Homo sapiens: one gene and its partners. The protein of the gene in region 2 purifies or fractionates together with the protein of the main gene of each other region. This does not show direct contact. Each region holds a gene or a part of one and is shown on either strand. Other genes may lie near its edges.

Region 1 (3,500 bases), on a different chromosome or scaffold from region 2:
AGATAGGGCCAGACGCCTTGGAGGAGTGGGGTCGGGTAGGGGATGTCCTGGTTGGCACAGAGTCTGGTGGTTCCAGGTGAGGGACAACCATGCTGTAGGGTAGGGTGGGGTGGGGGTTGGGGGCTGGTGGCGCCATCCTCATGCATCACTGAAACACCTCCCGGGCAGGGCAACGTGGTCCTATGGAAGCCCAGTGACACTGCCATGCTGGCCAGCTATGCTGTCTACCGCATCCTTCGGGAGGCTGGCCTGCCCCCCAACATCATCCAGTTTGTGCCAGCTGATGGGCCCCTATTTGGGGACACTGTCACCAGCTCAGAGCACCTCTGTGGCATCAACTTCACAGGCAGTGTGCCGTAAGTCCCTGGGGATGGTGTAGGCTGTGGTGGCTAGGGGACGTTCACCTGCTCACCTGCTGTCTGCCTGGGGATGGGGCTGTGAACCCAGGGGTCATGCACGGACTCTACTCCCTTACTTGCTGTGTGGCTATGAGTGAGCCACTTCACCTCTCTGAGCTTCCATTTCTTCACCTGTACAGGGAGTGATTATCCTTAATTTGCAGAGTCATTGCAAGGATTAAACATGTTAATGAACAGGAAAGAGCTTCGCAGACTGGAAGTGCACCCTACAGCTGTGGGTAATATTGATTTCAGTGCTACCTCTGCTACTGGAAAGGGCACAGGGGAGCACAGAATGAACTGGAGGAGTCAGGAAGCCTTCCTGGAGGAGGTGACATCTAAGCAGAGGAGTTGGCCAGGCAGAGGGGAAGAGGCAGGAGAAGAATATATATGTTGGGAGAGGGAATAGCACATACAATGTTGCCAAGCCAAAAACTTGTGCTCTGGGGCATGGCAGGATCCTGTGTGGCTGGAGTGTGGAGTTTGGGGGCGACAGGGCAAGAGAGTGAGGGCAGGGCATGGTTTGAGTTGAGGTAGGGGAGGCAGGCCACTACCTGATCTCGACCATCCATGCACTCACTGGCTGAGCAGGAAATTTGGAGCTCACACTAAGGCTCAGTGGTGAGCACACACCAGGGACAAGGTCCCGGCTCTCAGGCTGGAGGTGGCGGCAGGGAGTGGTTCAGTGACCATAAGATACTTAGGAGTCTGCAAAGGTGTCTGGCCTTTATCCTGAAGGTGATGGGAGCCATGGAAGGCTTCAAGCAGGGAGAGTGGCTGAGTCAGAGTTCTGTGTCAGGCAGAGATTGCAAATAATGGCCCCCAAATTGGATCTGGCAAGAGGCTCTACTTTCTTTGACTCCTAACAGTGATGGCCCAACTTTGTATAATTGGGACAATTTCATAGATAAATCCAAATATTGGCCTGTCTTGGTCCCCTGGACCTGGATGCTCTGATCTTGCATTTCCTGGTGGTACCACTGGCTGGAAGTGGGTGGGTGCCCTCTGGCTCCCTGCATACCTGATCCACGCTGTTTCCTTTCCCTGCTGGCTCCTCTGGGCCCCTGTGTTGGCACCCTCATTCTCAGTGATCTCTCTGTGACCTGATGCAGGAGACTGGCCAGGGACTGTTGACCTCCAGGGAGGGGTGGTAGGGGCTTGAACCAGGGGAGAGATGGGGGATGTGGAGAAGGGGGCAGGTTCAGGTGAGAAGGATGCAGGGAGGCACAGTGGCCATTGCCTGTCCTGGAGTTGGGGTTGGGGTGCGTGTGGGGATGAGGGGGGTTGTCAGCGAGAATGTTCAAGATGGGCACCTGGGAGGGCGAGCGGGCTCGGGGGAAGATGAATCTCCTGTTGGTCACTTCGGGTGTTATCTGGGTGGAGATGCCTGGAGGCAGCCAGACGCCCGGGTCTGCAGCTCAGGGTCCTTCTTACCTCCTCTTCCAGGCCCCAGGCTCTGCCACCCCCTTCCCCGCAGCTTTGCTGGGGGTGGGAGTGGGTGGTGGCAGCGTTAGAACTGCTGAGAAGGGCCGTTTTCCAAAAGGCCTGCTCTGCCAGCCACGGGCCCCTGGGCTCCCCGCCTATCAGCGGGCGGAGCGGGCCTGGACCCCATTCTCCACGCTCTGATGAGCAGCGGGCTTAAAGGTGGGAAGGCCATAAATTAGTATTAGCTACTGTGTCGCTGGCTCCCGGGTGATTAGCATTTTTATTGTTTTGTGGTGCTGAGGTTGGTCACACTTGGAGCCTGGGGAGGAGGCGAGGCCCTCCAGGGTGGTGGCTTCGGGCGGGGCCTGAGCTCCCTCTCCCAGGACTCTCCTCGGTTTGGCCTCTCAGGCCTGGGCGCTGGGCTTGGGGGGGATCCTTCGCAGACCACAGCGGGGTCTGTTCCCTGCCAGGTACCTGCAGTGTGCCCAGCATGTCTTAAGCACATGCCTCACACTTGAACTCATCACAAAACAACCCTGCCAGGTCAGGATTGTTCTCCCTGTTTCCCAGATGAGGTGCAGAATTCGAGGCTCAGAGAGGTTAAGTAATGAACCCAGGATCACACAGCCCTTAGTGTCCTCCTGGCTGCAGAACATGGACCTCCTCTGCAGCATCTTGCTGCCTAGCCCCCCGTTGCCCGCTCCCCGTAGTCTTGGAATGCAGCCTGTTCCCAGCCGCCATCCCCGACTTGGCTCCCACCTCCTGCTGGGCTGCCCCCGGCAATGCTCCTCCCTGGGCTTTTCCGCCCCCTTCCTCTGGCCTGGCTCCCTGAACCCCACCCTTTCTCCTGTGGTTCCAGCACCTTCAAACACCTGTGGAAGCAGGTGGCCCAGAACCTGGACCGGTTCCACACCTTCCCACGCCTGGCTGGAGGTAAGGCCTGCCTCACCTCCTCCTCCCGTGTGGCCCCAGGGACCCCTCCCCTGGCCATTATGAAAGAGGAGGGAGGTAGAGGGGATCCAGCCACAAGTCAGGTGGATGAACCATTTCAGGCACCAGCACTGCCCAGTAGAACTTTTTGTGATGAGGGATGCGTCCAGTACCTTCACTCTCCAATATGCAGCCACCAGCCACACATGGCCATGGAGCCCTTGAAGGGTGGCCTGTGCGACTGAGGAACTGCATTATCTAGTTTTCTTTCATTTTAATTAAGTTAAATCTTAGTAGCCAGTCGTGGCTGGTGGCTGCCGTGTCGGGCATTGCAGCTGTAAGCGGAGGCAAGTGCAAATGCAGAGACCAGAAGTGGGAATGAACTTGTATTTGAAGAAACAAAGCAAGGCCCATGAGTAGGGAGGGAGGAGGGCTGGTAGGAGAAGACGGGCTGAGACGTAGGCAGGGCTGGACCTTGTTGGCATATTAAAGTTTTCCCACAAAGAAACAGTTTCATGGTCAAGGAAATTTGGCATGTGTGGTGTTAAAGCAAAATGGACTCCTCCCGTGCAGAACTTCTCAGAGCCTTGAATGCTCTAATACGCATGGCACATCTTCAAGGACAAGGTCTGCCATGTAGTGTTTCCCACACGCATTGGGCCATGGAACCCCGTTTCTGCAAAGACCCCCATGGACCAAGTGTTTTGTGGAGCACATTTTGGGAATGTGCTGAGGCCTAGAGGGAGG
Region 2 (4,297 bases):
TAGATGCCTCAATTGCCAAGGGCAGGGTTTTCAGAGGGTGCTATTCTGTTGCCCAGAACAAGCCCCTGCCCCAGCCTCCCGCAGCCCCTCTTCCCTCACCTCGGAGCCAACGCAGGAGAAAATAGTCATCTGGATTCGGCAGGGCCGGCAGCACATCCTGGACATTCTCCCGAAACTGTAGGGAGAGGCATCGGGGTGAGTGGTAGGGCCCGCCCTGACTGCTGCCCTCTGCCTAGGACTCTCCACTGAGATCTTTGCTGGACGCCTCTTTCTTTGTTTCTTTTTTTTTTTTTTTTTTTTTTTTGAGATAGAGTCTCGCACTCTCGCCCAGGCTGGAGTGCGGTGGGCGATCTCCACTCCCTGTAAGCTCTGCCTCCCGGGTTCACACCATTCTCCTGACTCAGCCTCCCAAGTAGCTGGGACTACAGGGGCCTGCCAACACGCCTGGCTATTTTTTGTATTTTTAGTAGAGACAGGGTTTCACCGTGTTAGCCAGGGTAGTCTTGATCTCCTGACCTCGTCCTGATCCGCCCATCTCGGTCTAAAGTGCTGGGATTACAGGCATGAACCCCCACGCCCGGCCAACTGGACTTCTCTTTAACATAGTTCAACTCTGCAGACACTCCCTGGGCACTCATGCTGCCTGGAGCACTGTCTTGTCAGGGGGTGCCAGGTTGCAGGGCAGGAAGTGGGAAGGGAGTGAGACACTGCCCCTGCCCCACAACAAGGGCTCCCACACACCAGTCTGCGGGCAGGCAGATGTGTTCCCAGCTAATCGTGATAGTAGGCACTCTGATACGGACTGCAGTAAAAGCTGTCAGTTTACCAAGCATTTCCTGTCGCTCAGCGCTGATCTTGGCACCATAGCTTATTTACTCCTCACTCACAACCCGTAGAAGTATTGTCCCCATTCTACAGATGAAGGAATTAAAGCTCAGAGAGGCTAAGTAACATGCCCAAGGTCAAACAGCTAGTCATTAGCAGAGTTGGGATGCAAACCCGGGTCTGTCTGAGTCCAGAGCACACACTCTTTCCACCATGGTCTTCTGCCCCATGGAAGGATGAGGAGTTTGCTGGGGAGCAGAGGGAAGAAAGAGGTGGTCTCACACGGCTTCCTATAAAACATGGCATTTGTGCTGGGCTTGAAGGACTTCAAAGGCAGCGGGGGAGAGAGGTGGGCAACTCAGGTGGAGGGAACAGTTCCAGTAGGGGAAGCCAGGAAGCGGGAAAGTGCAGGTAGTGCCAAACAAAGGAGGTGGACAGTGACCTCAATGGACAGCCACACCTACCTCCAACCTCTCACTCCCTGGTAGGCGAACAGGCCCCTATATGCCCTCCCTGAGCCTCCTGCTCCCAGCCATTCACCTTTCCCTGACCACTGACCTAGAGGGCAGTCCCAGAGGACACTAATGAGGACTGGCCACCTCTGCCCCTTGCCTAGGTCAGCCAGGGACTCAGACCATCCCACCCCACAAAGCAGCTCCCAGTGCACCAGGGAAACTGCTCCTCCAAACTGCAGGCATGAAGCTACCCCTCTCCAAGGACCCTAACCAGCCCCTGGTCTCCAGTTTAATCACCACCTAATCCCTTCTCTGCCTGACCTCTCCTGCGAGTCAGCAGTAAAATCTGAAGCCTCCCTGTCCAGCCTTCCTGGGATGGGGGAGGCCCAGCCTGGGACAGAGGCTTTATGGAGCTGGTGCCTCCCCACTGCTGCCAGTGGCAGGATACATCTGCCCCCCGCCCCACCTTTCCCAGCCATGGAAAACTCCCCAGCTGTGGAGCCTCCAAATCTTGGGGCCAGACCCTATCGGCTCTTGCCCAGAGAAGAGCCGACCTCCTCACTCCCCAGGGGTGACAGATAAGAGATTTAGTTCGTGAAGAGGAAGGTCCCGCCCTCAAACTGTTGCCCCCTCCTTGTCACAGATGCCAAGGCAAAGCCAGGCTCACCTTCTTGCCTTCTGAGGAGCATAAACCTTAAGTCCTGAACCAGGCAGGGGTCTGGGATGCAAGATAGGGGACGGCTGGTCTCAGCTCAAACTAACACCAACCCAGTGCCTCATGGGGGGAGCCTGGAATTCACACACGGAGGTGTTCCCTTCAACATCATCTGGTCCAACCTCCTCATTCCATGGCATCGAGGAGCAAAGAGAAGGGCAGGGTTTTGCCCAAGGTCGCACAGCGGCTTGGTGCCGGGGCAGGAGCTATCCAAGTCTCCCAAGGAGCTATCCAGAGCCCTTTCCATCGTGCCACTGACCCTACAAGAAGAAAGCCTCCCGGAAATGGGAGGAAACTTGGGCCCCTGCCCCTGCCCCTGCCCCAGGGCCCGGCTGCCAGTCCCGAGGATGAATGTTGCCTTTGTGCCCTCAGCGGCCTCCGGGGACTCACAAGCAACCACTTGTCCCCAGGTGGCACCGCCACGGCTGCTCAGAGCTTGGGCGGGGGGTGGCCAAACTTCCTGGGACCTCGAGGGTGGCAAAGGGAGGAAGGAGCCATCCGCGGGCGCGGGCCAGGCTGGGACAGCCGCCTCTGTTCCCTCCGCCGCCCGCCACGGACCCTCGGCCCCCACCCAGCCCCGTCCCTTCTCGCTGCCGCAGGAGGGCGAGGGCCACAGCCCGAGGCGGGAGCCCGGGCCAGGGCTACAGCTCACCTTGGCCAATGCCTCCTTCTGCCTGGGGCTCAGATCGCCGACTCTGCCGCTCATCGTGGCTCAACCGCGGGGATGGGGTTTGGGGGCGGGAGGCGGCGGGTGCGGCAGCTGATGGAGCACAGACTCGTCCTCGCCGCCACCCGGAGTAAAGTCCCAGCCTTTTGCCCGGGCCGCGGAGCTGGCAGCCAAGCCCCGCCTCTTAAAGGATCCCGAGAGGCGGAGTAGGGAGCGATGCGCTGGGGCGCGGAAGGCTCTGACACGGGCCCCCTCCGCCCTCCTGAAGTCAGAGACCCAGGCAGGAGGCGAGCAAGTGTGCCCACTGGGACTGAGGCCAGTGGGCATCAGAAGGGCAGGGAGTCTCAGTTTTAGTTCCAAATTTATCCTTACCTCATTGTGTGACCTTGGAAGAGACACCTGAGCTCTCTGGGCCTCTGAACAAGGAGGGATTGAAAGGTGCTATCTAATGAGCTCTTCTAACCAGGCTCGCATAGTGCAGGACAGCACAGCATCCTGCACACAGGGATTGTTTTTGCATTGTTTTTTTTTTGAAACGGAGACTCGCTCTGTCACCCAGGCTGGAGTGCAGTGTCACGACCTCGGCTCACTGCAACCTTCGCCTCCCGGGTTCAAGCTATTCTCCTGCCTCGGCCTCCCGAGTAGCTGGGATTACAGGTGCACGCCACCATGCCAAGCTAATTTTTGTATTTTTAGTACAGATGGGGTTTCACCATGTTGGCCAGGCGGGTGTCGAACTCCTGACCTCAAGTGATCCGCCTCGGCCTCTCAAAGTGCTAGGATTACAAATGTGAGCCACGGTGCCCAGCCTACAGGGATTATTAATAAATGTATCCTGAATGAATGAATGAATGTAAGAACTGCTCCAATAGAGACACAGATCCCGGGGCTGGCAGAACCCTGAGAGGGAGAGAGAAACATAGATCATTCAGGGATCATGCAACTTACCTCGTTTAACAGCTAGGGAAACTGAGGCCCAGATAAGGCATGGCTTGCCCAAAGTTGTTAGTGGCATGACATATGTGGAGTGCCCACTGCCTGGCACATGGAAAGTGCTCAGCTGTGCCCTCCCCTTATGGCCTGGAATTAATGCAGAGCTAGGTCCAGGAGTCTGTGGGCATCTCGTCTCCCAGAGCCATACTTCTGCCCCCTCAACACTCAAGTCTCTGGGAGAGACAAAGCAGAATGTCCCCAGTCTCTCTCCTTACCTGGAGGCAAAGGCACCAGGCCTGTTAAAGACATTTAAGGACTTTGCTCTGCCCTTGGTGTGGCCCCCTCCATAGACGCCTGCTGCAGGGTGCAGAGTGAGGGTTGAGGCCCCCAACGCCCACCTCTACAGAGAGTTTTCAGGCAGTTCTGCCCTAGTTAGGCTCGCTGGCTTCTGGCCTGGGGCAGGACAGGGCTGCCTTCCTTACTGGATACATGGCTAAGATCTTTATATAAGACCCTTCCAGGGCCAGGATATTCTTTCCAGGCTAGAGCCTACTCAAAGGAAACTATTATAGAAGAACAGCATCTTGGCCGGGCGCGGTGGCTCACACCTATAATCCCAGCACTTTGGGAGGCCAAGGCAGGCAGATCACCTGAGGTCAGGAGTTTGAGACTAGCCTGGCCAACATGGTGAAACCCCGTCTC
Region 3 (3,500 bases), on a different chromosome or scaffold from region 2:
AAGATGGCAATATTGCAAGGTGGCTAAATATTAAAAGGAATAAAGAATGCTCACTGGCAAAAGGCTTTTAAAGTATGTTCCCTCTATCAACGCACAAGCATTCATACTATACTCACCTGGCACATGGACACAAGTAAACGTTCAAAATGTCCTGATGTATCTGACCTAATGTCCTTTTCAAGGTCTCGTCCAAATTCTGACTGATAACATCTGACAATTTCTCGGATTTCCTGATTTGTTCTTGTGCACAAAATCTCAATCAATACACGTTCCTGAGTTCCTGCTCCCTACATGAAATGAAGGGAAGATTATACAAAGAAAAATGAAATTTCTGCAAGTAATTAAATCTTCGTCAAATATTTCTTTGTTCTGTAGAACTAAAAACTATATATTCAGATGGATGATGTGAAATAAAGAATTGCTTTAATTACCACTGTAAATTCAGAACTGTCATAATTTGTACGGTTTTACATATGAAATAGGACAAAATATTCATAATAAATGACATATAGTAGTACCTGCATTGCTTTCCGTAAGCTCCAGGCATCGTAATACGTAGGAGGCATGAAGAGGGCCAGGATCAGTTCTTCCATATTTCCACTTAACTCTGATTTGAGATCTTTGATTAAATCCTATTTAATCACAAATACAAGCTAAGTATATGTGTTCTCCAAATTTTGTCACTTAAATCTTTTAAGGAAAATACAAAAAAAGAAATGGAATTGCTTTATAAAAACCTAAATTTGAAAGCTGAATGTTAATATACTAAGAAGTAAATAAAGGCCAGGCGCGGTGGCTCATGCCTGTAATCCCAGCACTTTGGGAGGTCAAGGCAGGAGGATCATGAGGTCAGGAGATCAAGACCATCCTGGTTAACACGGTGAAACCCTGTCTCTACTAAAAACACAAAAAATTAACCGGGAGTGGTGGCAGGCACCTGTAGTCCCAGGTCCTCGGGAGGCTGACACAAGAGAACAGCGTGAACCTGGGAGGCAGAGCTTGCAGTGAGCTGAGATCGCACCACTGCACTCCAGCCTGGGCGACAGAGCAAGACTCCGTCTCAAAAAAAAAAATAAATAAATAGAAATAAAAAAGAAGTAAATAAATTTAAAGTCTGTTACACTTACACATTTATTACACTCAAGCAGATCTATTTTATTCATTCTATCAATAAACATTTAATAAAATCTTATTCCACTCTACCAGGTACAAAAACAAGGGATATATGAAACAAAGAATTATTCAAACTGACAAAATGATAAACAGATATTTACTTAGTAAAAGGAACTGTTCTTGGTTCTATGAGGAAGTAGAAACCATTATCATCTTGTTCTTATTTGTTTTTTGTTGTTATTTTTTTTGAGACAGAGTCTCGCTCTGTGGCCCAGGCTGGAATGCAGTGGTGTGATCTCGGCTAACTGCAACCTCTGCCTCCTGGGTTCAAGCGCTTCTCCTTCCTCAGCCCCCTGAGTAGCTGGGACTACAGGCACATCCCACCACGCCAGGCTAATTTTTGTATTTTTAGTAGAGATGGGGTTTCACATGTTGGCCAGGCTGGTCTTGAATGCCTGACCCCAAGTGATACACCCGCCTTGGCCTCCCGAAGTGCTGGCATTACACACATGAACCACTGTGCCCAGCCGATATTGTTCTTATTTGGAAAGATACACATCTAAAAAAAAAATAATGTAAGGTAACCTGTACTCTAGCACTGGGTAAGTAGCATAGAAATAAGTAATAGAGAAAGTTGAAACAGAAAAAGTTCAAAGTCAGCTGGAGAGCTCAGAGAAAAATGTAAAAATTAGCATGCAAAGACGAAGGAGAAAGGTATTTCAGGTAAGAAGGAACACCACCAAGGAACAGAGAAGGGGTTCCCAGCCTTGACTCTTCATTACATTCATTGTGGAGCTTTAAAAAAAAAAAGAAAAACATTGATGTCCAGGACTAAGACTCAGAGATTCTGTGTATTTTTAAGTTTTAAAGGAAATTACGATGTTCAGTTAAGGTTGAGAATTACTCGTATAGAGCCAAGAATGAGCAAAGCTTGTTCAATGGAACAATAAGACAACCGGTTTTGCTACAGAGGAAGGTTTTCATAATAGATGAGTTAAAACAAAGTTGTAACTAAATCTTGGATTATTACACTGAATGCCAAGCTAAAGAATATGGACTTGATTCTGTTTGCTGGGAGGAACCACTGGAAACTTTTCATGCAAGAAAATGGCACTGATGTAGCAACAATATTCAGAATGGATGATGGTGACAAAGAAGCTATAGATGAAAACATTTAGGCTACTGGAATATTTAGTTAAGAGGTAATAAAGTCTTGGACTTGAATGGTAACAATGGAAATGAGAAGGAACAAAGTAGACAAAAGAAACATTTTAAAGGGCCATTTTATAGATTAGATCAATAAAAACTAGTAAATAACCAACTGCTAGGACAAAGCATACAGAATACTCCCTATGATAAAAGAAAAACATGGACTCAAAGATGACTATAGCAGGCTAGAAAAACAGTGTTTTACTAATTAGGAAGTTAAGAAAAGAGGTGGCTAGTGGTACGGAAATTAGATTGTTAGTTTTAATTCTAAAGCAATATATAAAAAAACTTGAGACAGCATTGTGCAGACTAGATAAAAAATTCATAACATGGAAAATATCTTTGTGAGAATAGTGAGTCTGATGTTGAAGCTTAAGGAGATCTAGGGTTTGTGTTGCATAATCAGTCACTGGGCTGGGCAGACAGGGAAAGGCAAAATAGAATAAGCAAGGTGGGACCAATCAATGGACCACTACCCCATTCTGAGAAATATAAACTAGATGCAGAGAACATTAGGATATTTTTAGGATTCCTATCTAAATGGCAAAGCAGGTCAGGCGTGGTGGCTCATGCCTGTAATCCCAGCACTTTGGGAGGCCAAGGCAGGCAGATCACATGAGGCCAAGAGTTTGAGACCACACTTGCTAACATGGCAAAATCCCGTCTCTACTAAAAGTACAAAAATTAGCTGGGTGTGGTGGCAGACACCTATAATTCCAGCTACTCGAGAGGCTGAGGCACGAAAATCGCTCTTGCCTGGAAAGTGGAGGCTGCAGTGAGCGGAGATCATGCCACTGCACTCCAGCCTTTTGAGACTCTGTCTCAAAAAAAAGTAAAAAAAAAAAAAAAAAAAGCAAAGCAGTGCTATCCATGTTTTCCCATTACATCTGAGGAACAATGGCATTTTTTAGCCATAGAATCTTGTTGGATTTAGAAACTGATCATCCATTCAACAAGTACTAAGTGGCTACTTGCCATTATATACTTGGTACTGTAATACAAAGATGACTATGACCATGGTTTGTCCTATGGGAGCTCAGTTTTTGGGGGTGGGCCGTGAGATTAGTAATAACAGAGGTTTTACAAAGTGCTATGGGACTACAGTATTAAGAAGCAGCTAAATTCTGTCCAGACTAATGAAAGAAACTTCAGAGTAGCTGATATTTAAGCCAAATCTT
Region 4 (2,664 bases), on a different chromosome or scaffold from region 2:
TGGTAAGCAGCTCTAGCAGGAAAATTACTCTTGAAATCTGAATTTAAAAGAATTTCATTTTTTTAATAGAGAAGAGTTGAAAAAATAAAGATCAAGTGAAAATTTTTATTTTAGTTTTCAGATATTCTATTGTTATTCAATATCTACAATTAATAATCTGGCAAATATTTCATATACTAGTCAGTTCTTAGATATAAGCAACATTTATTTTTATTTTTTTGAAACAGAGTCTTGCTCTATCGCCCAAGGCTGGAGTGAAGTGATGCGATCTCAGCTTACTGCAACCTCTGTCTCCCATGTTCAAGAGATTCTCCTGCCTCAGCCTCCCGAGTAGCTGGGATTACAGGTGTGCACCACCATGCCTGGCTCATTTTTGTATTTTTAGTAGAGTCGGGGCTTCACCATGTTGGCCAGACTGGTCTCAAACTCCTAATGTCAAGTGATCCACCCACCTCAGCCTCTCAAAGTGCTGGGATTATAGGTGTGAGCCACTGCTCCTGGCCTTAAGCAACATTTTAAAAAAGAGGCTCACTATCAGATTTGTTTGATAAAATATTTTGCCATATGATTCCTATGATAGTTAATACTTTTTAAAATCTCTTAGCTTTCTGGCAAAAAAAAAAAAAAAAAAAAAAAAGAAATACATACCCTAACATTTTGATCTTGTTTGATGTGAATGGAGTTTTGTTTTTAAAGTGATATTTATAAACTATTTATCTAAATAGGGAACAAGTGCCCATCTCCAGAAATTTTGGCAAGTACTTCCTCTGCCAACTTTGGTCTTTTCTAATAATTTCTTCAGGAGAGAATAAGTAACGATGCTTTTTCCAAGTTATACCTTTGCCTCATCCCATTAGGTGTTGGGGACACCAATTTTCCCTACTATAACATCAATGTTAATAATAGCTAACATTTACTCAGTGCTTATAACACACCAGCATCTAAGTGCTTTACATGTTGTACTGACTCATTTAATCATTCCAACAACCCTATAAGTTAGGAGTATATTATCTCCATTTTGCATATGAGAAAACCAAGGCATAGAAATATTAAGTAACTAACTAATGAGTCTGAGAGAGCCAGGATAAAGATGGTGGCTGCACCATACAGCCACAGTAAATAAAATCTATGCATAAAAAACTTGTTAGGAGAGTTTAAAAAGCCTGAGAAGGATTTAATGAAATTAAGCTTTTGAAAAATGGATATGTAGGATTTCAGTATATTGTTTTAGGGAATGCAATAGAAATGTCTTAGAACTTTTTCATGGGGGGTATACAACATATTTCCAATCAGATTATTAATTCTTTTAAGATCTATGACCATTTCTTTAGCATCTCCTACCACTCTTAATTCATAATGCACATTCATTAATGTGACCAGATTTCTTTCTTTTTAAAAATGGAAAATAGGAATAAAGCCAAATTACTTACACTGTTTGTAGATTTCATTGACAGTATTGAAGTCATTTATGTCAGCCAGAAGAACAGTTGTTTTCACCACTAGAAGATATAAACATTGTCATTAGGTTTAGTTATTTGGTCTGACCCAAAACATTACTTAGAAAAAGAGTGTATGAATCTGAGACTGTCTTGATTAAAATGGGACTGAAATGGGACCAAAGAAGTGAAGTAGAACAGTTGCTATTTAAAACAACTTTTAAATAGCAACAAAGATATGGCACGGCATCTTACTGGATGCCATATATTTTTCAAAAAGACCAAAGAAATATCAAAAAGAAATGTGAAATAATATCAAATTGCTCACCGTTAGTGAAGTCACAGCCTGCAGCTTTCAGAATTTCACCCATGTTTTTAAGAGCCTGTGAACCAAGCCAAGAAAGGCCTAAGTCACTGATGTTAGATTTAAAGCTTTAATTAAATTCAATTAATCATCTTTTACTAATACCTCCTTAAATAGCCTATGTTGCAGAAAAATCCTCCCTACTCGCTTACAAGTGTGTTTCTTGGCTTTCCTTTAATAGAATGAGTCTTTCTGATATATGGTGAAAATGTTGTCTCCTTTTGTGCGTAAAAAGACTAGGTTGAAGTTCCTTCTTCAGTGCTAAAATGTGTTAATTGTTCAGCCAATGTCCACAGAAATAATTTCTGGTGTTCTTCATTCGATATCACGTCAAGGATAAGGATGAGCTAGTAAGCATTAAAACATATTTTCTTTTAAAGCAATATTTGACTTCAAAGGGTTCTTTTTCCTTTTTCTCAAAAAAACAATATTAGTAAATTATATAACAGTTGGAGACACTGGCTTCTGGAAAAACATTTATCTTTTTTTGGATTCACTCTTCCCACTTTGCTGGTCACAATGCAATATTTCATTATATTCTTGTGTCTTTTAAAATAATCTTCTAAATAGGTAATACATGGATATGGCAACAACAACAACAAAAAAACTCAAAAGCTATTAAAAAAGCATATACCGTGTAAAGATATCTCTCACCCCTCTCTCCCTCTCCCAAGTTTCCCTCCTCAGAGGTAACCACTGTTCCTAATTTATTGTATATCCTTCTAGGTACAGTCAATGCTTATGTTACATATTTTTAAACACACAAGCACACATGGTAGCATACTGTGCATGTTGTTCTGCATCTTGGTTTTATTACCATGGAACAATTTACCTCGGAGATCTTTCCACATTACTTTAGTTGTA

What was found. The genes of interacting proteins can lie anywhere in the genome.
Region 1: the proteins of SEC14L2 (region 2) and ALDH4A1 fractionate together in Homo sapiens (co-fractionation; one large-scale study listed by BioGRID). This does not show direct contact.
Region 3: the proteins of SEC14L2 (region 2) and ANXA7 fractionate together in Homo sapiens (co-fractionation; one large-scale study listed by BioGRID). This does not show direct contact.
Region 4: the proteins of SEC14L2 (region 2) and RIDA fractionate together in Homo sapiens (co-fractionation; one large-scale study listed by BioGRID). This does not show direct contact.

What each region holds. Positions count from the first base shown.
Region 1 is NC_000001.11:18,878,556-18,882,055, reverse strand, and holds part of ALDH4A1 (delta-1-pyrroline-5-carboxylate dehydrogenase, mitochondrial isoform a precursor), read left to right. Parts: intron 1-168; coding exon 169-356; intron 357-2,682; coding exon 2,683-2,756; intron 2,757-3,500. UniProt on the Homo sapiens protein: Irreversible conversion of delta-1-pyrroline-5-carboxylate (P5C), derived either from proline or ornithine, to glutamate. This is a necessary step in the pathway interconnecting the urea and tricarboxylic acid cycles.
Region 2 is NC_000022.11:30,395,521-30,399,817, reverse strand, and holds the start of SEC14L2 (SEC14-like protein 2), read right to left. Parts: upstream 2,801-4,297; 5' UTR 2,702-2,800; coding exon 2,648-2,701; intron 176-2,647; coding exon 100-175; intron 1-99. UniProt on the Homo sapiens protein: Carrier protein. Binds to some hydrophobic molecules and promotes their transfer between the different cellular sites. Binds with high affinity to alpha-tocopherol. Also binds with a weaker affinity to other tocopherols and to tocotrienols.
Region 3 is NC_000010.11:73,383,059-73,386,558, forward strand, and holds part of ANXA7 (annexin A7), read right to left. Parts: intron 633-3,500; coding exon 519-632; intron 288-518; coding exon 117-287; intron 1-116. UniProt on the Homo sapiens protein: Calcium/phospholipid-binding protein which promotes membrane fusion and is involved in exocytosis.
Region 4 is NC_000008.11:98,104,508-98,107,171, forward strand, and holds part of RIDA (2-iminobutanoate/2-iminopropanoate deaminase), read right to left. Parts: intron 1,820-2,664; coding exon 1,765-1,819; intron 1,500-1,764; coding exon 1,431-1,499; intron 38-1,430; coding exon 1-37. UniProt on the Homo sapiens protein: Catalyzes the hydrolytic deamination of enamine/imine intermediates that form during the course of normal metabolism. May facilitate the release of ammonia from these potentially toxic reactive metabolites, reducing their impact on cellular components.